Homo sapiens: one gene and its partners. The protein of the gene in region 3 interacts with the protein of the main gene of each other region in a pairwise test. Each region holds a gene or a part of one and is shown on either strand. Other genes may lie near its edges. The genes, in order: FAM114A2, GARIN4, RAB2B, FAM114A1, TXNDC11, VRTN and HIP1.

Evidence for each region.
Region 1: the proteins of RAB2B (region 3) and FAM114A2 interact in binary tests that used the Homo sapiens proteins (3 or more experiments, as listed by UniProt).
Region 2: the proteins of RAB2B (region 3) and GARIN4 interact in binary tests that used the Homo sapiens proteins (3 or more experiments, as listed by UniProt).
Region 4: the proteins of RAB2B (region 3) and FAM114A1 interact in binary tests that used the Homo sapiens proteins (3 or more experiments, as listed by UniProt).
Region 5: the proteins of RAB2B (region 3) and TXNDC11 interact in binary tests that used the Homo sapiens proteins (3 or more experiments, as listed by UniProt).
Region 6: the proteins of RAB2B (region 3) and VRTN interact in binary tests that used the Homo sapiens proteins (3 or more experiments, as listed by UniProt).
Region 7: the proteins of RAB2B (region 3) and HIP1 interact in binary tests that used the Homo sapiens proteins (3 or more experiments, as listed by UniProt).

Annotation. Positions count from the first base shown.
Region 1 is NC_000005.10:154,025,411-154,028,910, forward strand, and holds part of FAM114A2 (protein FAM114A2), read right to left. Parts: intron 2,874-3,500; coding exon 2,739-2,873; intron 1,925-2,738; coding exon 1,766-1,924; intron 1,113-1,765; coding exon 989-1,112; intron 1-988.
Region 2 is NC_000001.11:212,623,323-212,627,273, reverse strand, and holds GARIN4 (Golgi-associated RAB2 interactor protein 4), read right to left. Parts: upstream 2,801-3,951; 5' UTR 2,397-2,800; coding exon 612-2,396; 3' UTR 499-611; downstream 1-498. UniProt on the Homo sapiens protein: RAB2B effector protein required for the compacted Golgi morphology, probably through interaction with small GTPase RAB2B.
Region 3 is NC_000014.9:21,466,960-21,470,459, forward strand, and holds part of RAB2B (ras-related protein Rab-2B), read right to left. Parts: intron 2,258-3,500; exon of another isoform or gene 2,250-2,257; coding exon of another isoform or gene 2,227-2,249; intron 2,221-2,226; exon of another isoform or gene 2,134-2,220; coding exon of another isoform or gene 2,083-2,133; intron 1,794-2,082; coding exon 1,711-1,793; intron 1,491-1,710; coding exon 1,398-1,490; intron 1-1,397. UniProt on the Homo sapiens protein: The small GTPases Rab are key regulators of intracellular membrane trafficking, from the formation of transport vesicles to their fusion with membranes. Rabs cycle between active GTP-bound and inactive GDP-bound states.
Region 4 is NC_000004.12:38,874,306-38,877,805, reverse strand, and holds part of FAM114A1 (protein NOXP20), read right to left. Parts: intron 1-3,500. UniProt on the Homo sapiens protein: May play a role in neuronal cell development.
Region 5 is NC_000016.10:11,678,583-11,681,220, forward strand, and holds the end of TXNDC11 (thioredoxin domain-containing protein 11), read right to left. Parts: intron 1,256-2,638; coding exon 613-1,255; 3' UTR 501-612; downstream 1-500. UniProt on the Homo sapiens protein: May act as a redox regulator involved in DUOX proteins folding. The interaction with DUOX1 and DUOX2 suggest that it belongs to a multiprotein complex constituting the thyroid H(2)O(2) generating system.
Region 6 is NC_000014.9:74,354,971-74,358,470, reverse strand, and holds part of VRTN (vertnin), read right to left. Parts: intron 1,689-3,500; 5' UTR 1,688-1,688; coding exon 1-1,687. UniProt on the Homo sapiens protein: Acts as a transcription factor that regulates development of thoracic vertebrae.
Region 7 is NC_000007.14:75,553,942-75,557,441, reverse strand, and holds part of HIP1 (huntingtin-interacting protein 1), read left to right. Parts: intron 1-630; coding exon 631-732; intron 733-1,272; coding exon 1,273-1,416; intron 1,417-1,890; coding exon 1,891-2,026; intron 2,027-2,915; coding exon 2,916-3,002; intron 3,003-3,221; coding exon 3,222-3,329; intron 3,330-3,500. UniProt on the Homo sapiens protein: Plays a role in clathrin-mediated endocytosis and trafficking. Involved in regulating AMPA receptor trafficking in the central nervous system in an NMDA-dependent manner. Regulates presynaptic nerve terminal activity.

The DNA of each region.
Region 1 (3,500 bases), on a different chromosome or scaffold from region 3:
GCACAAATGCCAAAGCAGAAAAAAAACTCATTATAATTTTTAAAAAATTCCTAAGTAGACAACATCTTAGTATTATGATGCAGAGTTCTGACTCATAGACTCCCTGAAAGGGTTCTGGGAATTCAAGGGTCTACAGACCACACTTTGTTCATCACTGATTTAACCTACTACATGGGTGATTGGCCCTATGTCTTAATGAAACCTGAGAGAATTTTTCCATTCACTTTTAATGTTTATAACTGATTATTTCATGAAGAAAAGGCAAAACTGTATTCATTAGATTCCACTTTTTTAAAAAAAAAAGGTCAGTTAGTGTATATCTTAGAAATATTTCCAGCTAAAATGTCAATAAAACAACCCTTAGAACTTAATATTCAGTTGCCTGGCAATTATACTTTACGTCAGCCATCTCATTTCCTGACCCATCTCATTTCCTGATAATTTTGCAAATATACATAGTATCTACATTTACATTTTCTGAGAAATGAAGATATTAAAATATGGTATAAGAGTTTTCAAAATAAAAAAAGACAAACTATCACCCACATTTTAGATAACTGCCATCCTGCATGCTTCAATTCAAGACAGAATCAGGGGTTACAAGAGTCAGAGAGGCAGAGGTAAAGTACCTAGGAATATGAAAGCTCATATGAATGACCAGTCAAACTGAGGCAAGAATCTGATGAGAACAGCTTTCTAACTGCAAAAATAGGCAAAGATGTGAGTTGCAAGATTAGACCTTGAGAAGCCACAAAGGGTTTGGTTGGAAGGAGGCAGGGAGACATGGGCATAAGGCCAACTGCCCCCATCAATGCCTAGTCAGGTGCAAGGCTGCAGAGAATTTTACACAGAGAATTTGCATAAAAATTTTCACCAAAAAAGTAAAATCAAGCCAGTGTAATAAGAGTAAATAATTTATTTCAAGGGCAATGCACTGCATACAAACACACTGCATCCTCTCCACTCAGATACTAAATTTTCATATTACCTTTTTTCTCTTCTTCCTCTTCTTCACAAAATTCTGCTAGAGAAAATGTTTCTTTGAGTTGCTCTAATTCAACTTTTAGAGTCTCTAATTCTTCTCCACTCAGAGAATTAAGGATAGATTTCACCTGAATGGATACAAGAACAAAATGTTGTAGGAGTATGAAAGAAAAGAAAAACATTCACAAATAGGGAAGAGACTATAAAAAGATCATATTGAAGTCAAAATTATGAGCTCATCAGCCAGCACAAGTTATTCCTTAAGAACCTTAACACAAGAGGCTGGTTATGACAGAAAGGTAGGGAGACTCTGTGCTTCTAAAAGTAATACCAGCCAGAAATTCCTGGAAATTATCAGTGTTTAGCAACAGCTTAGAAATAACAAAAAAATTAGATAATCTTAAATCAATTAAAAGCTAACAGGTAACTGTACACAAATTGGCAGCTCAAGTCAACAGGTTTCTTGGCAGCCTAGGCCAAAGAAACTAAAAAAAAAAAAAAAAGACCAAAACGAAGGAAAAATAACACATGTCCTATTAAGACCTCTTTGTTAACCTTTTTTGTTTAAATTTAAAGAAATAATACTTGACTAATTCTGCTTTTAGCAATTAGTTCAATCAAACATTAGTTTTTAAATTTATTTTGTGGTAGTATTTCGAAGGCATCTCAAGCCTCTAACAAAACATACACTTCATCTTCCAAATGTACAAAGAGAAAGGAAACCATGCAGCATTCTTTTACTTGAAGACTTTTTCCAGTTGAGATTTTGGCTTGGAATTACCTTTATTTCACTTTCTTGGGAAAGCATCTCCAGAGCTTCTAGATGTGAAAGGCCTTGAAATTCATCAAAGAGTAGCCCATAATGAGTTTTCTTGTCTGTTTCCACGGTAACCTCATTGGAGGTCCGTATCTCTTCTTTCTCCTTCGCCTCTCGTAAAACCTAAAAAGAGATGGAGGCATTACACTGTAGCAAACAATGAGAGCTCAAGGGTGAGTTCTGAGAATTGAAGGAAGCAAAGCTTAGACAGGTTAGAGTACAGAGGATTGCCCTTTCATTCTTGGCACTGCTATTCAAATCTGGTGGGCTCAGGAGCTGCAGAAAGAAAAACGATCACACATAATTTGAGACGGAGTTTCACTCTGTCACCCAGGCTGGAGTGCAGTGGCACGATCTCTGCTCACTGCAACCTCTGCCTCTCGGGTTTAAGCTATTCTCGTGTTTCAGCCTCCCAAGTAGCTGGGATTATAGGCATACGCCACCACGTCCAGCTAATTTTGGTATTTTTAGAAGAGACGGGGTTTCATCATGTTGGTCAGGTTGATCTTGTACTCCTGACCTCAACTGATTCACCTACCTCGGCCTCCCAAAGTGCTGGTATTACAGCCGTGAGCCACCGTGCCTGACCACATAATTTGATCCTAGACAGTGCAAATCACACCCAAGGAACCAGGTGTTTCTCTGAAAGTGATTTAAACATTAAAACAAACAAACAAACAAACAAAAAACCCTGACAGGGTTTAGCATTTTGCACTGCACTGATGGGAGGCTCCTGCAGAAAGAGGAGGAGAAAAAGAGCTGGGTATTTTTGTAAGCAGTAGAGCTCTCACCCATCCCTGATCCCCCCAAAAAAACGCCTGAATAAACATTATTGAAAATGCTTGAAAAGAAAACACTAACAAGGTTCCAAGTAAACAAAGGCAAAAATACAGATCAAAACAGAAACAGGAAGTAAACAGGTAAGGATAATCAGTACCTGAGATAGTGTAGCATTTCGGTTCATCAGACCCTTGGTTCTTTTAAATCCAGGATCCCCTTCTGCTATCACATCCATTGTCTTTTTTCCAATGAATTCTAAGGCATCCAAACCCCCACTTATAACACTCTTTCCCTAGAAAATACATGCAACCTCATTACAACAATATTAAGAAAACATATTTTTATGCATTTTTATTATGTATTTATTATATAAAAATAGTGGCTAACAATACCAAGCACTGGCAAGAATGTAAAGCAAATGAAACAATCACACACTGCTTGTGGGAACGTAAATAGGTATAACCACATTAGAAAACTGTTTGTCAATATCTACTCCAGCTGCATGACCCAGAAATTCCACTCATGGTTACATCCTAACAGAAATAAGTACAGAGGTTCATCAGAAGACATGCACAAAAATGTTCATAACAGCTCTGCTTGTAATAGCTACAAACTGAAAACTACCCCAATGCTCACCAACTGTGGAATGAATAAATAAAACGTGACAAAGCTTCACAATGAAATACAACAAAGAAAATCAAATCTACCACACAAACTGCAGCATAGGTAAATTATACAAATATAATGTTGCATGAAAGAAGTTAGATACTATATATGATTCCACTTATGTAAAGCTGAAATGCAGGCAAAATTAACCTATGATGGTGGAAGTCAGGATTATGGTTATCTTGGTGCAGGAGAGGGGGAGAGCAGAAGACACAGAAAACTGGGAGAGGACACAAGATGGTGGGGAGATCTG
Region 2 (3,951 bases), on a different chromosome or scaffold from region 3:
TTTAGGCAGTTTCCAGTATTATTTTGCTACAAACATTCTCATGGCTGTCTCCTGCAACATGTGTGTTTCTTGGGAGTATACTTAGGGGTGGAATTGCTAAGTCTAGACAATGCTCCTCCCTGTTCTGGTTGCCAACACATGCTGCTGCTCCCTTACTCCCTCCTATGAATAGTGCAAGGGGGTGAGAGTTCTGTTCTTGCTTCGTCTTTGGATTTTCCAGGGTTGGGAGGGGGCAAGTTTATAAAAAGGATGGGGAGATGGTGGAGGTAGAGCTTCAAGCTCCCAGCCTGACTTTCAGCCATAGTCCTGGCGAACCAAAGCCAGGAAGGGGTTGAGGAAAGCTGGAGCACTCATCTGGGCTCTGCTGAGCATGGGTGTGAGGTGGGGCTACCCTTGACTGGATCCTGGGGTCTCAGGCTGCAGCACAGTTGACATCACAGAATCCACTGTGAGGTCACTGCTGGGCTGTGGGACACAAAAATTCAGCCAGCAAGCCACTTTCAGATGTATGATTCTTTATTTAAACGGCAGTAAAGAACGCTGGAATAGGCTTTCCAGGGACACTCCCATGAGCTCTGGGCTCCTTTGCAGCTTCCAGCTCTGGGTCTTATTTAATGGGCTTCAAAGGTCACTGTCTCCATGATGTCCGGTGTCATAGAACCAACCGTCTCCAGCCCCTGGCCACCCTCTGCTGTCTCGGCGATGGCCACGTTGGTGCTCCTCTCCGCCATCTTAGCCATGACGTTCACATCTCTGCCATGTGGTGTGCCCACTACTTTTGTAGTAAGGTTGGCTCTGACGTTCCTCAGGAAAGAGCTGACCCTGCCAAGTCCCTTGCTGGAACCGGAACTGGTGGTCCATAAGCTCCTCCCAGATTTGTGAGAGGTCCTGGACTCCTTTGAGATGGGCGTGTGGCTGACACCTTTATGCGAGTCCCTGTGCCTGCTGCTCCCCGGGTTGCCACAGCCTTTCTCCTTTTTGTCATCTCTATTGGCTCTGTGGCTGAATGAGGACCTGCTGGAGGACTTTTGGGCAATCTTGTCTCCCCTTGTTTTGTGGCGGCTTTCACCTGTCCTGCGGCGATGGGAACTCCTTCCGAGAGCCCTGTCCTTTTCCCTTCTTTCCCTCCCCTCCTTGCAGCCTTCAGCGCTGGCCTGGGTTCGCTCCCTTCCATGCTGTCCACTCAGGCTGCTCTTGCTCTGCCGGGTGGAGACGGGAGGTCCCGCTGCTGCATCCATGTCTGCTTCTGCAGCTGTCCTGCTGGTCAGTACTACTCCTGCAATGGCCAGGCTCACACTGCCCTCTCGGGAAAGGCTCATGGATGCGCTGGAAACATGCTCTGAGGACTTGCCTGCAGCCCCTGCCACAGCCACCTTCGTGCTGTTTGGAGCCATGCTGGCAGTGCCTGCAAGGGCCATGTTGCCTTTGTTTCCTCCTGCACCGATGGTGGCCGCCCCAGCTATGGCTGCGCTCACCTGTCCAGGGGCAGAATTGGCTGCTGCCACACTCAAGGCACCTGCTACGGTGCCTGTTGCTGCCCCTGCAGCTGCCCCTGCTGCTGCTGCCTCTTTAATCCCCCCTGTTGCTGGCTCCTCAGCAAGTTCTGTAGATGTTTTGGGGATGGATGCATTGAGCACATTAGTGGGTTTGTTAAAGTCATTTTGGAGTCCCTCCCCTCCAGCATAAGCAGCAGAGGTGGCCCCACACACCTCAGAGACCATGTGGAGGCTTTGGATGCTGACCTGGTCCTGATCCCCCTTTCCTTGAAGGTTCACGGCTCCCAGGCTCCTCCTGTCTTCCTGAAACACAGGCATCCACATCATGTCTTCAGCTGGAATGCCACAGGTACTGCTGTTACTCTCCATGGGTGGCCGCAAGAGGTAAATTAGTTTTTCCCAATAGGCAAAGAGGTCATCCCGTGTGTCAAGAGCGGGACACAATTGCAGATAGCAAGATCTGCCAGTGGCGAACTTCAGGCGCAGCTGTTGTTTCTCATGGTCTTGAACAGAGATCCGTACAAACCTCAGGGGCAGAAGCCTGGTGAGCTCTAAGTTCTTTGCTGCCTTGCGTTTTTTTCTCTTGGTGGCCTGGCCATGTCCAGCATACTCTTCGCAGCCGGTGGCCGGTCGTGCCAGTAGCATGACATCTGGGAGTGGGAGGATGGGGCTGGTACGTGCAATGCCCATGGTCACCATACGGACACGGTTGTGCACATCAATCACTTCTCCCCTTTTGGTGATCTGGATAAAGTCGCTCTCAAATATCGGTGCATACTTGAATATATCGTACTCCCCCTTGTACAGTTGTCGCTGCAGTTTCCCCATGGTGGTGTTGAACATGCTCATGCTGGAGCCACTCTGGGCCGTATAATACGGCAGCAGAAAATCAGCATTCATGGTTGTCTTTCAGCACAACGGCAGCACTGGTGAGGCAGGTCTCTGGGTCTTCCTTGGCCTCGGTGGCAGATGAGGGACCAGTGGTGCTCCTGGGTCACAAAGATGTCTCTGCAGCTGGTCTCTCAATCCCACCCCACCCCACAGGCCCCCACTGTTGCCTCAGAGCCTCCCAGAGGCCGGGGTGGGGGTGGGAGCACGGATGATTGCTGTGGGGGGTGCTGTAGGGTGCCTGGACTCCAGACTCTTCCAAGACGTAGAGATGCAGGGTGGGCTCCAGAGAGGTTTTCTTCTGGACCTAACCCCCTGACCTCCACCTCTGATTTTTTTAATTACAGTTTGTAGTCTCTCTCCCTGAGAGAGACTACAAACTGTAGTCCTAGTGACAGGAAGTGACGACCCTCTCTGCCTAAACCCCCTGTGCAGCCATATTTATCTTCTGCTTCCCTTTGTGACCTGTTGCTGTCACATACCCCTTTGTTCTCATCCCCCAGGCCAGGGCCACAATGCCCTCACTAATACTCCATTGCCCCCATAGAGGACAGCCCCACCGTGCCAGGTACTCAAGTGGGTGCCAAAATAAAAATTTTTCAAATGAGAAAATGTGTGGTTGCTTCCCCTTCCTCACCCCAAATTCAAAAGATTCAGCAACTAGGCAGAGTCTACAGGAACGCAAGATGATGGGATAAATTTGAACCATTTGAGTACACGGTTTAAATTTTTTTTTAACCTAGAATTCGCAGTCTTGGTTCTTAGCCCACTCTTCCATAAAATCTCAGTTCATGCTGACAATGGAAATCTTTAGTAATAACCTCAACCTTTAATAATAACATGAGAGATTGCTTCTTCTAGGCGCCATACTATGTATCAAACTCCATTCCAGTTTGATACTATTGCAACGCTTCTCATCTTACAGGTAAAAAAAACCTGAAGTTGTGAAACATACCTGCATTTGTAGAACTCGTAGGCAGTGGAGGTATTATTTGAATACAGGTCTTGCTGCTTTTAAAATCTTCCTTCTGAACCACTACAGAACTTACAAAAAAAGCTTGGGCAAGCCAAATAAGTTGCATAATTAATTCTGTGTGTGTGTGTGTGTGTGTGTGTGTGTATGCATGCATGTTATGGAGAATCCAGGACAACCACTTCAGAAAGGGGCTGGGCTGAGTGGGGGATTAAATTATCCAAGGGGCCACCTCTATTTCTCCTCCATCATGTTTATACCAACATCCTGTGTCAGGGAGCCCAAATATTTTCTCAAGGCCCCCAGTGTTTGCCCCGTGCCTCTTCTTACCCCCTACCCTGTGAAATGCCGGGAGAAGAGGGTAGGATGGAAAGTGTGAGCTTACATTCCAGGAGCCTATCAAAGGCCCTCCTCTACTAACCTCTCTACTATGCAGAAGTACTTTGGAAGCCATTTACATCCATGGGGAACAGGTGCTACTATACCTCCTGCCTTGCCATGCCCACAGAGCGAGCCCAGGAATAAGTAATTTCCAAGCTGTTACCTGGAAGTCCTGAAAAGGAGCACCTGCTTCCAACTCTCTTTTCTCCCAGC
Region 3 (3,500 bases):
GCAGTGGCACTATCTCAGCTCACTGCAACCTCCGCCTCCCGAGTTCAAGCAATTCTCCTGCCTCAAGCTCCCAAATAGCTGGGACTAGAGGTGCGTGCCACCACGCCTGGCTACTTTTTGTATTTTTTCAGTACAGACGGGGTTTCACCATATTGGCCAGGCTGGTCTTGAACTCCTGACTTTCTAATCTACCCACCTCGGCCTCCCAAAGTGCTAGGATTACGGGCTTGAGCCACCACGCCTGGCATATTTTTTCTTTTTTTTATATAGGGTCTCACTCCTGTTGCTGAGGCAGGAGTGCAGTGGTACAATTACAGCTTCATTGCAGCCTCGACCTCACAGGCCCAAGTGATCCTCCCACCTCATTTAAAAATTTTTTTGTATAAACAAGGTCTCACTATGTTGCCCAGGCTGGTCTTGAACTTATGGACTCAAGCAATCCTTCCAGAGCTGGGATTACAGGCATACGCCACTGCGCCTGGCCTTTTTATTTTCAAACAGTTACTAAGCGGTTATAAAAAATACTCATGTTGTTTGGGTATAACTATTTAACAAAACTATTAGGTATTTCTTTTGGCCTATGGGTGTCAAAAAAAATTTACTGATAATAACCAGTGTTGTTAAGGATGTAGAGAAACTGGAATCCTTGTACATTGCTGGAAAGAATGTAAAATGAGACAGCTGCTATGGAAAATGGTATGGTGGTTCTTCAAAAAATAAAAGAATTACCATATGATCCAGCAATCCCACTTCTGGGCATATACCCAAAAGAATTCAGAGCTGGGACTTGAACAGATCCATGTTCATAGCAGCATTATTCACAATAGTCAAAGGATGGCAGCAACCCAAGTGTCCATGGACAGATGGATAAACAAAATATTGTGGTATATGCATACAATGAATATTACTCATCTTTAAAAAGGAAGGAAATTCTGACACATGCTACAATATGGATAAACCTCGAAGACATTATGCTAAGTGAAATAAGCCAGTCACAAAAGCACAAATATTACATGAGTCTACTTGTATGAGGTACCAGTAGTAGTCAAATTCATAAAGTAGAATGATGGCTGTCAGGGGCTGAGGGATGAGGGGGATGGGGGAGGGAAGATGGAGAGTTAGTGTTGAATGTGTATAGAGTTTGAGAAGATGAAAAAGTTCTGGAGATGGATGTTGGTGATGGCTGTGGAACAATGGATATTCTTAATGCTACAGGACTGTATGCTTAAAAATAGTTAAAATGGTAAATTTTGTGTCATATATATTTTATCACAACAAAATTTTTTTTTTTTACTGAAACACTAAGACCACTATAAACTGAGAAAGTTTGGGGATCAATGTGCATAGAGTACCTAGATGACTCCTGTTAACTATTATTCACATGGATACAATTTTACCTCTTATTCCCAATGAGCATGATAACCATGTTGGAACTAGAGTGCTGCCGGGCATCCTCTAACCATGAGGTCAGGTGGTTGAAGGTTTCACGCCTACAGCAGAAAAATTTAGAATGTGGGTCAGAGACACATTTCAAAAGGCCAAAACAACTCCAAGCGTATACGAAAAGAGGGGAAGCCATACGTGTAAAGAAAAATATTAGAGAGGCCATTCCTAGTTAACATCCTTAACAGAATCAGTAGATAGAAAAAAAAAAAAAGCTTTAGAGGATTTAGGGAAGAATCTCCCTCCCATGCACCAGATCTGGCTCACCTTGTAATGTCGTACACCAGCAGTGCTCCAGCTGCTCCCCTGTAGTAGGAACGGGTGATAGAACGGAAGGATTCTTGCCCAGCCTTTCCCACCAACATGGCAACAAAAAATCCCAACAAAACCAGGTTATTTCCACAGAACCGACTTGATCACATGCCACCCTAATACAAAGGACTTAACTAAAAAAAGAATTTCTATTACGAAAAGAGAATTAGGGAAAGAAAACATGCCTGCCCGAGAAGAAACCCAAGTGGGAAATCAATATTTTTCTATGGGAGTGCATTGATATTTTGGGCAGTCACTTACTCTTCCTGAGAGACTGTCCATCAGATTAGTGGATGTTTAGCATCCTAGATCCCAGTCACTAAATACCTGTGGCACCCCAGTCAGCACGATAAAGACGATGAAGACATTTGCATACATTTCCCAATATCCTCATAAAAGAACAACTGGAAATAGGACTGGAAACGGAGTGTATGTCATTTTTTTCAATCCCAAATATGATATTGAACACACCATATTAATCTTTCTGTTCCCATTTCTTTATCTGTAAAAAGGAAAGTTATCTTAGAATGCCAAAACCTGGTCTAATAGAAATTTCATTCCAATGAATCAATATAAAAATTAGATTAAAAGCACTTCAACTGATTATCTTCTAACTGACCTTTAGTGTTCCACTGATAATGCAAGACTACCTAGATGTCCCTTGCTGGGCTTCTGTCATGGGAAATAGGAATAACAAACAGAGAAAGAAGCCCAGGGCCCAGCATAGAGTTTTCCTAGAAAAATCCAAATGTTCACACTCTAATCTCATTTCCAGTTGGACAAAGATATTAAGTTCTATTTAAAACTGAGTAATTTATTAATGCCCCCATAATACTGGGTACTTTTGCTTTCTTGATGGACTAGTTCTTTTTTTTTCCTTTAGGGAAAACAAAAACATTTTTTAAATAATATGAATACCCTGTACATTGAATCTATCCTATTAAGAAAGTTTTCACATTCTTGAAATAATTTATCCTTACATCCCTACATAACAGGAGGTAAGACTATAATTTATAGGTTACAAATGGGAGAATCATGATTAAGGATGTGGGAAAATAAATGGCTTTCTCATAGTATAATACCAGTAACAGTGGTAACACTAATTATAACACTGCAATAGTACTATAAACTACTTTTTGGCATATAAAATGTGCTACGAACTTTAAGAGACAATTACATATATTATTTCATTTACTTCTCTTAGCAACCCTGGGGCCGATATTATTATTCCCTTTTTTTTTTTCTTTTTTTTTTTGAGAGGGAGTCTCGCTCTGTTGCCCGGGCTGGAGTGCAGTGGCGCAATCTTGGCTCACTGCAACCTCCGCCTCCCAGGTTCAAGCAATTCTCCTTGCTTCAGCCTCCCAATTAGCTGGGATTACAGGCGCCCACCACCATGCCTGGCTAATTTTTTTGTATTTTTGGTAGAGATGGGTTTTCACTATGTTGGCTAGGCTGGTCTTGAACTCCTGACCTCATGACCCACCCGCCTCGGCCTCCCAAAGTGCTGGGATTACAGGCATGAGCCACCGTGCCTGGCTTATTATTTCCTTTTAAAAATGGGGAAAATGAGGCTCACACAAGTTTAATAAACGGCCCCAAATCATAAAGCTTATTAAGTGCTAGAGCCATAATTTAAACTTAGGATCTTAGTACTTCCTAGGACAAAAACTTGTCCTCTTAGCCACTATATCATATAACCTAAACTGGGGTTTGTAGGTGAGAAGAGAATTCCAGTATACTAACTC
Region 4 (3,500 bases), on a different chromosome or scaffold from region 3:
TTTAGTAGAAACGGGGTTTTTCCATGTTGGTCAGGCTGGTCTCGAACTCCCGACCTCAGGTGATCCACCCACCTTGGCCTCCCGAAGTGCTGGGATTACAGGCGTGAGCCACCGCGCCCGGCCAGGGCAAACTTTTTTTTAACCAATACTCTATGTAACCTTGTGGGTCCCCAACCCTGCATTATTCCTTGTACCAGTCCATGGCCTGTTAGGAACCAAGCTGCACAGCAGTGGGTGAGTGGCAGGTGAGTGAGCACAGCTTCCTCTGTATTTACAGCTGCTCCCCATCGCTCGCATTACCACCTGAACTCCGCCTCCTATCAGATCAGTGGTGGCATTAGATTCTCATAGGAGCATGAACCCTATTGTGAACTGCACGTGTGAGGGATCTAGGCTGTGCACTCCTTATGAGAATCTAATGCCTGATGATCTGTCTCCCATCATCCCCAGGTGGGAGCATCTAGTTGCAGGGAAACAAGCTCAGGGCTCCCACTGATTCTACCTTGTGGTGAGTTGTATAATTATTTCATTATAAATTACAACGTAATAATAATAGAAATAAAGTGCACAATAGTAATGTGCTTGAATCATCCCAAAAGCATCTCCCCCGCACCCCTTTCTGCTGATCTGTGGGAAAATTGTCTTCCACAAAACTAGTTCCTGGTGCCAAAAAGGTTGGGGACTGCTGGAATAATGAATGGCCCCCAAGATAACCACATCCCAATTCCTGGAACCTGTGAGTGTTACCTTACATAACAAAAGGGACCTTGCAGATGTGAGTAAGATAAGGATCTTGAGATGAGGGGATTATTTTAGATCATCTGAGTTGGCCTTAAATGTAATCACAAGTGTCCTTATCATATGGAGGCAGAGGGAGATTTGATTACAAAGAGGAAAAGGTGATGTGATGACAGAAGCAGAGGCTGGAGTGACGCACTTCAAAGATAAAGGAAGGGGCCCAAAGCCAAGGAATATGGGTGGCCACCAGAAGCTGAAAAGGGAAAAGAAACCACTCTCCCCTCAAAGACTCTAGAAGGAATCAGGCTGCCAGCAACTTGACTTTAGCCCATGGACACTGATTTCAGACTTCTGACCTCCAGAACTCCAAGAGAATAAGTCTGTGTTGGCAAAAGCCGTGAAGTTAGTTGTAATTTGTCACAGCACTGATAGGAAGCTAACAGAAACCTACAGGGCTATCTTTAAACTTTCCTGGAGCTCTTACTTGGCATGAAAGACTACGCCTATGGGAACTAAGAGTAATACCTGTATCTTTAAAATTATTGACTCTGGCTTTATTAATTATATTTGTAGCAATAATGAGAATAAGCATAGGAAGGCAGGGTGCAATGGCTCACACCTGTAATCCCAGCACTTTGGTAGGCTGAGGTGGGTGAATCACATGAGGCCAGGAGTTCAAGACCAGCCAAGGCCAACATGGTGAAACCCTGTCTCTACTAAAAATACAAAAATTAGCTGGGCATGGTGGCATGCACCTGTAGTCCCAGCTACTTAGGAGGCTGAGGCACAATAATTGCTTGAACCTGGGGGGTGGAGGTTGCAGTGAGCTGAGATCGTGTCACTGCACTCCAGCCTGGGCGACAAAGCGAGACCGTCTCAAAAAAAAAAAAAAAAAAAAGAAAAAAGAATAAGTCTAGAAAATACCTGAGCACTTATCAAAAAAAATACTTGCCATTTAGCTTTGTAACATCTTTGTCAGAAATTCACAGTGAGAAAGAGACCTATACACACACAGTATTCCTTGTTGGGGACCAGCTGATGAAGGTCTAGACCATGGTTTAGTCAAGGATAAACTTAAAGGGTAAGAAGTGAGGTAGAAACCAAATAAGGAATGTAGCCATTAAAGCAGAAAACTCTTTTAAAGCTTACAAATTATTGATATCATGTAGAACAGCACTATTCAATGGAACTTTCGGTGGTGATAAAAATGTTCTGTCTCAACAAACTAAGCATTGAAGGAACATATCTCAAAGTAATAAGAGCCTTTTATGACAAACCCACAGCTAACATCATACCGAAGGGGCAAAAACTGGAAGCATTCCCCTTAGGAACCAGAACAAGACGAGGATACCCACTCTTACTACTTCTATTCAACACAATAGTGGAAGTCCTAGCCAGAGCAATCAGACAAGAGAACGAAATAAAATAGGAAGAGAGGAAGACAAACTATCTTTGCAGATGATATGATTCTACACCTAGAAAATCCCATAGTCTCTGCCCAAAGGCTCCTAGATCTGATAAACAACTTCAGCAAAGTTTCAAGATACAAAATCAATGTACAAAAATCAGTAGCATTTCTATACACCAATAATGTCCAAGCTGACGGTGAAATCAAGAATGCAATTCCATTCACAATAGCCACAAAAAGAACAAAATACGTAGGAATACAGCTAATCAGGGAGATGAAAGAGCTCCACAATGAGAATTACAAAACAATGCTCAAAGAAATCAGAGATGACACAAATGGAAAAATTTTCCATGCTCATGGATAGGAAGAATCATTATTGTTAAAATGGCCATACTACCCAAAGCAATGTACAGATTCAATGCTATTCTTATCAAACTACCAATGATGTTTTTCATAGAATTAGAAAAAAATATTCTAAAATTCATGTGGAACCAAAAAAGGGCCCAAATAGACAAAGCATTCCTAAGCAAAAAGAACAAAGCTGGAGACATCACACTACCCAACTTCAAACTATACTACAAGGTTATAGTAACCAAAACACCATGGTACTGGCACAAAAATAAAACACATAAGCCAACAGAACAGAATAGAGAACTCTGAAATAAAGCCACACACCTAAACCATCTGATCTTTGACAAAGCCAACAATGACAAACAATGGGGAACGGACTCCCTATTCAATAAATTGTGCTGGGATAACTGGCCAGCCATATGCAGAAGATTGAAACTGTTCCCCTTCCTTATACCATATACAAAAATAAACTCAAGATGGACTAAAGACTTAAATGTAAAACCCAAAACTATAAAAACTCTAGAAGAAAACCTAGGAACATAGGAAACACTATCCTGGATATCGGCCCTGGCAAAGATTTCATGACAAAGACTCCAAAAGCAATTGCAGCAAAAACAAAAATTGACAAGTGGGAGCTAATTAAACAAAAGAGCTTCTACACAGCAAAAGAAACTACCAACAGAATAAATAGACAACTTACATAATGGCAGAAAATATTTGCAACTATGCATGTGACAAAGGTCTAATATCCAGAATCTGTAAGGAACTTAAATCAACAAGCAAAAAACAAAACAAAAACCATTAAAAAATGGGCAAATGACATAAATAGGTACTTCTCAAAAGAAAACATATAGGTGGCCAACAAGCATATGAAAAAATGCACACCACCACTAATCATTAGAGAAATGCAAATAAAAACCATAATGAGACACCATCTCACACATAGATTTTCCCAATAACTCAGAGCTGTCATTTACCACGCTTTCACCCTCTCAAGAATATA
Region 5 (2,638 bases), on a different chromosome or scaffold from region 3:
TCCCTGGTGCCAGGGACGTACCTGGGAGTTTGAATCAGGCCCATTTGAGCGTGGCAGCCGTGTTGGGTGAAGGTCCGGGGCTCGGTGAGGCACTGGGGGGGTTTTCGGGAGGAAAATGAAAATGCTTCTAGAATGAGTGAACCACATCATAGCTCTCACTGTTTTTTCAATAGCTACTTTTTTTAGCAGACACCAGAGCCACACTCAAATGGCTAAGTAGGTTATGACCTCTCTGGATTATTTTTGAATGCCCAACTGTTGCATTCAAGTTTTCTGACTAATAAGAAATTAAGCATTCATCCTTCGTATCACTGCAGAAGCAACAGTGGGGGCACAGGGAGGGAACTCTTGACACTGAGCCACTAAAATATGGACTAATTTTTTGGACAAATCTTCAAACGGACTGTGCTACTGTATTTGTCTCAAAGCTACCAAGTTTGTGCAATAAGTGGAAGGGATGTCATCCTTCTTCAATAAATGCTGAATGACATTCAAGCTGATTTTCTAGACCACTGAGAAAATCTTTATTTACAATAAATTTCAATAAAATTTGCATAAATATATTCCCAATGTACAATTTTCACCTCTGATTTCTTCATATCATTTAAAAAGTTAGTCTGTCCTGTTCTCCTTATTCCTTTCAGACACCAGTGTGGCGCTGACATTGGCAGGTGGAGGGGAGCTGCCAGGGAGCTGGGGGGTGGCTGAGGGCTCAGGCTGCTTGGGGTGGACCTCTCTCTGGGCCGCCAGGCTTTCAGCTCCATCCCTGCCCTCCAGTTTCCTCTCCATGGTCGCCACCAGGATCTTGAGCCACGTGTTCTCGGTAAGGAGGTTTTCTGAGGCATCGGCCAGCTCCTGCAGCTTGCGGGCCAGCTCCTGCAGCTCACGTGTCTTCTGCTCATAGAGGGCCTGCAGCTGCTCACTGTGTGCGTGGAGCAGGCTGTGCTGCTCTTCCAGGGCCCGCTGCTGCTGCCGCAGCCGGTGCTCATCTCTGCGGGCACTGGAGAGCTGGGACTCCACCTGCACTTGTGCTCGCTGGAGGCTGCTTATTTCTGCTCTCAGTTTCTGGATCTCTCTCTCCAAGTGGGAGATGTGCCCCCGCTGTAAGACTGCCTCGCTCTGAAGACACTCCTTGGTAGGAGAGTTAGCCACATTCTGGGGGCTGGAAGCAGGGTCTGAGTGATGCAAAATGAACCTCAACAGGTTTGGAAGGGTGATGGGGACGTCTTCGGGGTATTTCACACTTAGGTCCTTTCTGGAGAGAGAGGGAAAGGAAGCAAAGACAGGAGTCACACCAACACAATGAGTCCAAAAGCAGGCTGTACCTGAGGCCAGGCCATCTACTTCTCACCAAGAAAAGACGTTCCGTGGATTTTACTTACTGAAAGTAAGGAAAATGTTGCCTGGGCAAGAAATTCTCTACAAAGCTGAGGCTGTCCCATATGCTCGTTCTGTAATTAAGATGGCTTATCTGTTCCTGAAGCCAGAGCTCAGCTTCACCCACACCCTCCAAGAAAGACAAGAGCTCCTAGGCCCAGGCCTAAAGCCAGTGATGCAGGGCCCCAGGAGTGTGTAGGCATGGGGCCTCTGTGTGCTCGGAGATGCCCAGCGGCTGTGTCAGGAAGAGCGTCCAGGGGAGGCAGGAGTGTCCCACCTATGTCCCTCTTGTGCCCACTGACAGTGCCCGGAGAAAAAGGAAGAACTTGAAAGATACCCAGTCTGTTTCTTCAGCAAGCATTTATTACACATTCTCTAAGGCAGGGGTTCTCAACTGGGGGTGACTGTACCCCCATTCCCCAGGTACATCTGGCTCACACCTGGCAACCTGATAACTGGCAAACAGCCCAACCAAAGGACTATGAATTCAGGCTGCCCAGCCCTGAGAGCACAGAATAAGGAAGGAAGGTGACATAGAAAGGGGTTTTCCCTACAGCTTTGTTCCAGGTCCTGATCTAGAGATCTAGAAAATTCCTCTTCAGAACTTGTCATTTAATCGTCTGATGATGTTTCTCTCACATATCTATTTACCTGTGCCTGTACAGCCTGGCTGCAATTGATCAAAACTACCAGCTTTATGCACTTAGGTATGAGGTGGGCCGGCAGCCGAGTTTGTCTCCCTCAGGTGTTAACAGAATGGAAGTCAACAGCAGGGACTCCAGAGCCTGGCTGCCCAGGGCCACTGGACCCGGCCGTAAATTGTTTTATAATTTTGGGGTAAACATTCAACCATCCCCTCCTTTAAAGCTTAGTTTTCTTAACATATAAGCTTTCTTCAAGTGGGGCCCAGCCATTCAAATGACAAAGCTGGGTGTGGTGCTGTGTGCCTGTAATCCCAGTGCTTTGGGAGGCTGAGGTGGGAGGATCGCTTGAGGCCAGGAGTTTGAGACCAGCCTGGACAATATAGTAAGGCCTCATCTGTATAAAAAGTAAGATAAAAAAATTAGCCAGGCAAGGTGGCACACACCTGTAGATCCAGCTACTTAGGAGCCTGAGGTGGGAGGATCACTTGAGTCCAGGAGTTCAAGACTGCAGTGAGCCGTAATTGCACCACTGCACTCCAGCCTGGGCAACAGAGTCAGACCTTGTCTCAAAAACAGAAAACCAAAAAACCCCACAACAACTGAAAACACATCGTGGC
Region 6 (3,500 bases), about 53 Mb from region 3:
GGACCGGCACCTGAAGTTTGGACAGGCCTCTGGGCCAACCCCGAGCAAGACTCTTCCAGACCCAAAAGGCAGAAGGTGACAGGCTGGGGTAGCGGAGGCGGAAGCGGCAGAAAGGGAGATGCCCACTCAGCACCTGCCTGCGGGCAGCCCTGCGCAGACGCCTCTGCCAACGGGACAGGGGCATCCTTAGTGGCAGGAGCTCCCCGGGGGCGGGAGGGTCCTCACCTGTGGCATTCCCTGCCCCCTCTTCCGCCTCACTCTTCCAAGGAATTACAGCCCCTTCCCCAACAGATGCTAGCTGGGGAGTCCCAGCAGCAGAGAGGGCTGGTGCCGGCTTGAAGCTGGGGTTCCTCCGGAGGGCCTTTCGCCGCCAATTATAATAAGTGGACCGTGAGATGCCAGGGAACCTGCGTTTGAAGCAGCGATAGGGTACCAGTGTGTTCAGGGAGATGCAATGCTCCAGGTACAACTTGGCCCGCTGCATTAAGACCATTCCAGGGCTTGACACCGCCAGTGCGGAGCACTCCAGCTCCTCCTCAGCCACCTGCTCCTCCGGCAGCTTCTCTAGCTCCTCCATGCCCAGCACCTCCCTGGGGGGCAAGGCCGGGCAGGTGCCAGAGCCCAGCAGCTCATGCTTCCAGGCATAGTAGGTTGAGCGGGAGATCTCCGGGAACCGCTGGAGGAACTGCTGAAGTGGCACGACGCCCCCCCGGTGGAAGCTGTCCTGCAGGAAGTGCTTGGCGGAGAAGCGGGCAGCAACCTTCTGCCGGTGCTCCTGGGACTGCCGCCGCCAGCGGTAGAAGGTGCTTTTGGTGACGCTGTAGCGCTCACAGAGGTGAGAGTAGCTGAGGCCAGGTTCACGGTTGAGCAGCTCCAGGGTCTTGGCCGGCGATGAGAGTGGGGCCAGGGCTGGAAGAGCTGGGGCCACGCCAGGGGCACCTTCAGCCTCCACCTCTTCCAGCCCCACCACAGGGGCAAAGTACTGGTGGCGGAAGAAGTGGCTGGTGAGGGGCTGGCCAGCCCACATGATGTGCAGCGTGGAGGGCACGTGGTCGCAGCGGCGGGGCCGGATGACACGGTTGAAGTAGGGCCGGATCTTGAGGTTGCGCATGGGGTAGATGGAGTAGATGTTCCGCTGGAGGACAGAGGCGAGAGCATACAAGTGCCACACGTTGGAGAAGCTGCTGGGGAAACAGGAGGCCTTGACGTCGGCATCGAAGATGGCCTCCAGCGTGGCGGGGGGCAAGCTGGTCATCTCAGGGGACTCCTCAGAGCATAGGGAGTAGCGCACGGCCTGCAGCATCACTTTGGAGTCGATCATGCCCTGGAGGTAGTAGTGTCTGTGCAGCAGCATCTCTACCACGGTGCGGGCCCGCAGCTCCAGGCTGAGGCCTGCGTCACCCCACAGCAGCATGCTGGCCGCCTCGAACAGCAGGCTGCCCTCCCCCTTGCACACCAGCGGCAGCATGTTCCGTGGAGCATCTTCTGGATACAGGCTCAGGGCCACCGAGTCCACTTCCAGCACCTGGAGGCCAGGGCCTCCCTCCCGGCAGGTGGGGAGAGTGAAGGAAGACAGGACCTGCTTGGCCTCCAAGGAAGCACCTATGAGACCCTCCAGGCCTTCGCACTCCACTGCTTCCTGCAGCTCCTGCAGCACCTTCTGCACCAGCTGGTTCCGAGAAGTCATCCTGCCAGGGCAAAAGATAAAGGGGCAGTAGTCAGGTCGAAGTGCCCAGATGATGACTAGCAAAGGTGCCCTGTCCACTCCTGCACTTTCTCCCAAAAGGTAATGTCTATCTGCTCCCGTCCTCCCACAACAGACGGGATTGGTTCATCACTGAATGGTACTGAGGAAAAGTGTGGTCTCTAGAACCTGGCTTTGAATCCTGGCTCTGACATAAGCTTGGTCACCTTGGATCACTTAACCTCTCTATGCTTCTGTTCATTTTCTATAAAATGGGAATGGTGTGTTAAAATCTGCTTTATAGGCCAGGCACGGTGGCTTACACCTGTAATCCTAGCACTTTGGGAGGCCAAGGCAGATGAATCACTTGAGGGCAGGAGTTCGAGACCAGCCTGGCCAACATGGTGAAACCCCATCTCTACTAAAAATACAAAAATTTGCCAGGCATAGTGGCAAGAGCCTGTAATCCCAGCTACTCTGGAGGCTAGGGCAGAAGAATCACTTAAACCCAGGAGGCAGAGGTTGCAGTGAGCTGAGTTAGAGCCACTGCACTCCAGCCTGGGCAACAAAGTGAGACTGTCTCCAAAAGGGAAAAAAAAATTAATAAAATATGCTTGAGTTGTTCTGGGCATAAATGAGACAATAAAGAGATGTTGGCTGGGCGTGGTGGCTCATGCCTGTAATCTTAGCACTTTGGGAGGCTGAGGTGGGTGGACTGCTTGAGTCCAGGAGTTCAAGACCAGCCTGAGCAACATGGCAAAACCCCATCTCTACAAAAAATACAAAAATTAGCTGGGCACAGTGGCATGTGCCTATAGTCCCGGCTACTTGGGAGGCTGAGGCAGGAGGATCATCTGAGCCTGGGAATCCGAGGCTGCAGTGAGCAATGCTCGCACCACTGCACTCCAGCCAGGGTGACAGGAATGAGACTCTGTCTCAGAAAAAAAAAAAAAGAGAGAGGCCAGGTGCAGTGGCTCATGCACTTTGGGAGGCTGAGGCAGGCAGATCACTTAAGGTCAGGAGTTTGAGGCCAGCCTGGCCAACATAGTGAAACCCCATTGCTACTAAAAATACAAAAAAAAAAGTTAGCCAGGCATGGTGGAATGCACCTGTAATCTCAGCTACTCAGGAGGCTGAGGCACGAGAATCACTTGAACTTGGGAGGTGGAGGCCGCACTGAGTAGAGATCATGCCACTGTGCTCAAGCATGGGTGACAGACCGAGACTCTGTCTCAAATAAATAAATAAATGATGCTATTTTTTTTTTAAAGAAAAGAAAGAAAACCGTTATCCTTAAGTACATGTCGTTTTCAATACTGGGTGTAATCAAATGGGGCATACTTATAACACGCTTGCTGCAACCCGAGGTATGATGAATGTCTCCATTGGATGATTGTTCTGCTTTTCTGATAAATTAGCTCCCTTTAGCATGATATACAATTTTTACTTGAAAGAAAGTCTAATAGACACTGGTCATTCAGATTTGGATATATTTGGCAGATATTTTCTCAAAAATGAATGAAGTGAGACTGTAATTTCAAGGGAAACAACTATTTGCTGCCCATAAAAACTTATCAGCTTCCATCTGAAAATCTCAATTTTTCTGATGAGATCAGTGGTGACAATTTTTTTTTTTTTTTTTTTTGAGACTGAGTCTCGTTCTGTCACCCAGGCTGGAGTGCAGGGGCGCAATCTCAACTGGCTGCAACCTCTACCTCCCGGGTTCAAGAGATTTGCCTGCCTCAGCCACCCGAGTAGCTGGGATTACAGGCGCATGCCACCATGCCCAGCTAATTTTTGTAATTTTAGTAGAGAC
Region 7 (3,500 bases), on a different chromosome or scaffold from region 3:
ACAAAGGCTTTCCAAGGATGAGGCTGGTGGAGAGTTTGAGGAAAGGAAAACACATGGGTGGCAGAGAGAGAGGGATGAGCGTTTTTTTTTGTTTGTTTGTTTTGTTTGTTTGTTTTTTGAGACGGCAGTAATCCCAGGACTTTGGGAGGCTGAGGGGGGTGTGGATCACCAAGTCAGGAGTTCGAGACCAGCCTGGCCAATATGGTGAAACCCCATCTCTACTAAAAATACAAAAGTTAGCCAGGTGTGATGGCGTGTGCCCGTAGTCCCAGCTGCTTGGGAGGCTGAGGCACAAGAATCTCTTGAACCTTGGAGGTGGAGGTTGCAGTGAGCTGAGACTGCACCACTGCACTCCAGCCTGGGCAACAACAGCGAGACTCCGTCTCAAAAATAAATAAATAAATAAATAAATAAATAAATAATAAAAAATCCTTCCTTGACATTCCACATTTTCAGTACACTCTGGGGTCTTGCCTCCTCCTCCCACACCCTGCACTTTTTTGGGGGGGTGTAACTTACATACAGTAGAGTTTACAGATCTCTTGTTGATCGCTTGGGACGTTTTTACATTTTTATATTCTTTGTCACTGTCACCCAGATCAGAGTCCCTCTGTTTTTCTTCTCTTTCAGACTCAAGAACAGCTGGAAGTTCTAGAGAGCTTGAAGCAGGAACTTGCCACAAGCCAACGGGAGCTTCAGGTTCTGCAAGGCAGCCTGGAAACTTCTGCCCAGGTAAATACCTCCTTTTTTTTTTTGGAGATAGAGTCTTCTTCTGTCACTCAGGTTGGAATGCAGTGGTGCGATCGCAGCTCACTGCAGCCTCCACCTCCCTGGGCTCAGGTGATCCTCCCCACTTAGCCCCCCGAGTAACTGGGACTACAGGCACACACCCCTACACCTGGCTAGTTTTTGTATTTTCTTTGGTAGAGACGGGGTTTCACTATGTTGCCCAGGCTGGTCTCGAACTCCAGGGCTCAAGTGATCCTCCCACCTCAGCCTCCTAAAGTGCTGGGATTACAGACATGAGCCTTCATGCCCGGCCTCCTTTCTTGCCCCACCCCTGGCTTTGGCGTTGCTGTCATCCACCATCCTTGGCCTGGCCAAGTCAGCCCCCACTGCAATCAGTGTGTCCCCGGGAGGGAATCAGAGTGGCAGGTTAAAGAGCCATCACCTTCCCAGTCCTTGCAACCCGGTGGTGGGTTGGACCTCTGGGAAGTAGGGACTGTTTAACTCAACCAGCGTCTCCCTCTTTCCTTGTGGTCACCTTTGCAGTCAGAAGCAAACTGGGCAGCCGAGTTCGCCGAGCTAGAGAAGGAGCGGGACAGCCTGGTGAGTGGCGCAGCTCATAGGGAGGAGGAATTATCTGCTCTTCGGAAAGAACTGCAGGACACTCAGCTCAAACTGGCCAGCACAGAGGCAAGTCACGGACATGGACACGAGCGAGCACCTGTGAATTCCCACCGAGGGCCTCTGCGCATGCACGGAGGCTGGGAGGACCCCGGGGCTGCTGAGAAGGGGTTTGGGGCCTTGGCCTGATTGTGCAGACATTCTGTAGGTGTAATGCCAGCAGGCCCTGCATTGCCTGCAGAGTCCATGAGGGAAAGCAAACTGCTGTCTTTTTTGTATGAGAAGAGAAGTTTGGCATCTCCTCCCAGCCATGAGAAGCGGGCGCAGTGATCCATCCCCACAGCCTCTGTGGGCAGCCGCACATCGTGGGCAGCCGCACATCCTGTGCACACAGTTAAAGCGCCTTTCTCTGTCTCAGGCTTACTGGCTTGGACCTCATTGGCCATGACTTGAGCTAAGATGCTAAGAGCCCCAGCCAGGTCATCCTGCTCAGGTTCATTATGGAGTCTAGGGCAGACTCTCACCTCCCTGGACCATTTTTAGGAATCTATGTGCCAGCTTGCCAAAGACCAACGAAAAATGCTTCTGGTGGGGTCCAGGAAGGCTGCGGAGCAGGTGATACAAGACGCCCTGAACCAGCTTGAAGAACCTCCTCTCATCAGCTGCGCTGGGTCTGCAGGTACACTTGCAATTGCCCAGCTGGCAGGGGCCAGGTCCTTACAGCCTGAGACTCTGTTGATGTTGAATCTCATGTGAGACTTAGCTCAGGGGCTCTCAGCCCAGCAGCATGTCAGCATTACCTTAGGGGCGCCCAGGCCCCATCCTAGATCAGTTACATGTGGAAACTCTGTGCATTAGTGCCTATACACTAGTATTTTAGTATTTTCTTCCCCCCCCCCGCCCCCCCGCTTTTTGAGATAGGGTCTTACTCTGTTGCTCAGGCTAGAGTGCAGTGCCGTGGCTCACTGCAACCTCCGCTTCCTGGGCTCACACAATCCTCCCCACTCATTCTCCCAAGTAGCTGGGACTACAGGCACGCAACACCACGCCCAGCTAATTTTTGGTTTCGGTTTGTTGCTCAGACTGGTCTTGAAGACCTGGGCTCAGGCTATCCACCCACCTTGGCCTCCCAAAGTGCTGGGATTACAGGCATGAGCCACCATGCCTGGCCTTGGCTAATTTTTTAATTTTTGGTAGAGACGAGGTCTCACTCTATTGCCCAGGATGGTCCCAAACTTCTGAACTCCCACCTTGGCCTCTCAAAGTGCTGGAATTACAGGCATGAGACACCACGCCAGGCCCAGCAGTAGTATTTTCTAAAGCCCCCAGGTGTGATAGCTACTGCTTTAGACAGTGGGTCACACTGATAAAACACCCACCAGGAGCAGACAATTCTGTTTCTCTAAGGAAAAAACTATGGTCTGAATCAAGAGGTGATTACTCATGAACTTCACGTCTAGGCAGGAAGCTTACCCACTAGGTAAGCTCCTCCATTCAGTGCTTAATTAACGAGGATGAAGCCAGCTATGAGAACTTGCTCTGACCTTGCCCTGTGTTCCCTCTCACAGATCACCTCCTCTCCACGGTCACATCCATTTCCAGCTGCATCGAGCAACTGGAGAAAAGCTGGAGCCAGTATCTGGCCTGCCCAGAAGGTAAGAATGGCCAAGGACAGTCTCTGTCGGCTAGTGATGGCCAGACAGGGTTCAGAAGCACCTGAATGCGGGGATAGTGACAGGTCCCTCTGCATCAAGAAAGGCATGTAGGCAACTCATACAAGAAAGGCATGTAGGCAACTCATAAAACGGGAGGAGAGGGTATGAAAGTGTCACCATCAACCAGACCTGAGAAACTTCTCTTTCCAATCCTGGCAGACATCAGTGGACTTCTCCATTCCATAACCCTGCTGGCCCACTTGACCAGCGACGCCATTGCTCATGGTGCCACCACCTGCCTCAGAGCCCCACCTGAGCCTGCCGACTGTGAGTACCGGGGCATGAGGGGCTGTTCATGGACCAGGGGAGCAGGGGGCCTTTAAAAGTCTCTGTTGGGCCGGGCGCAGTGGCTCATGCCTGTAACTCCAGCACTTTGGGAGGCTGAGGCGGGCAGATCACTTGAGGTCGGGAGTTCAAGAACAGCCTGGCCAACATGGC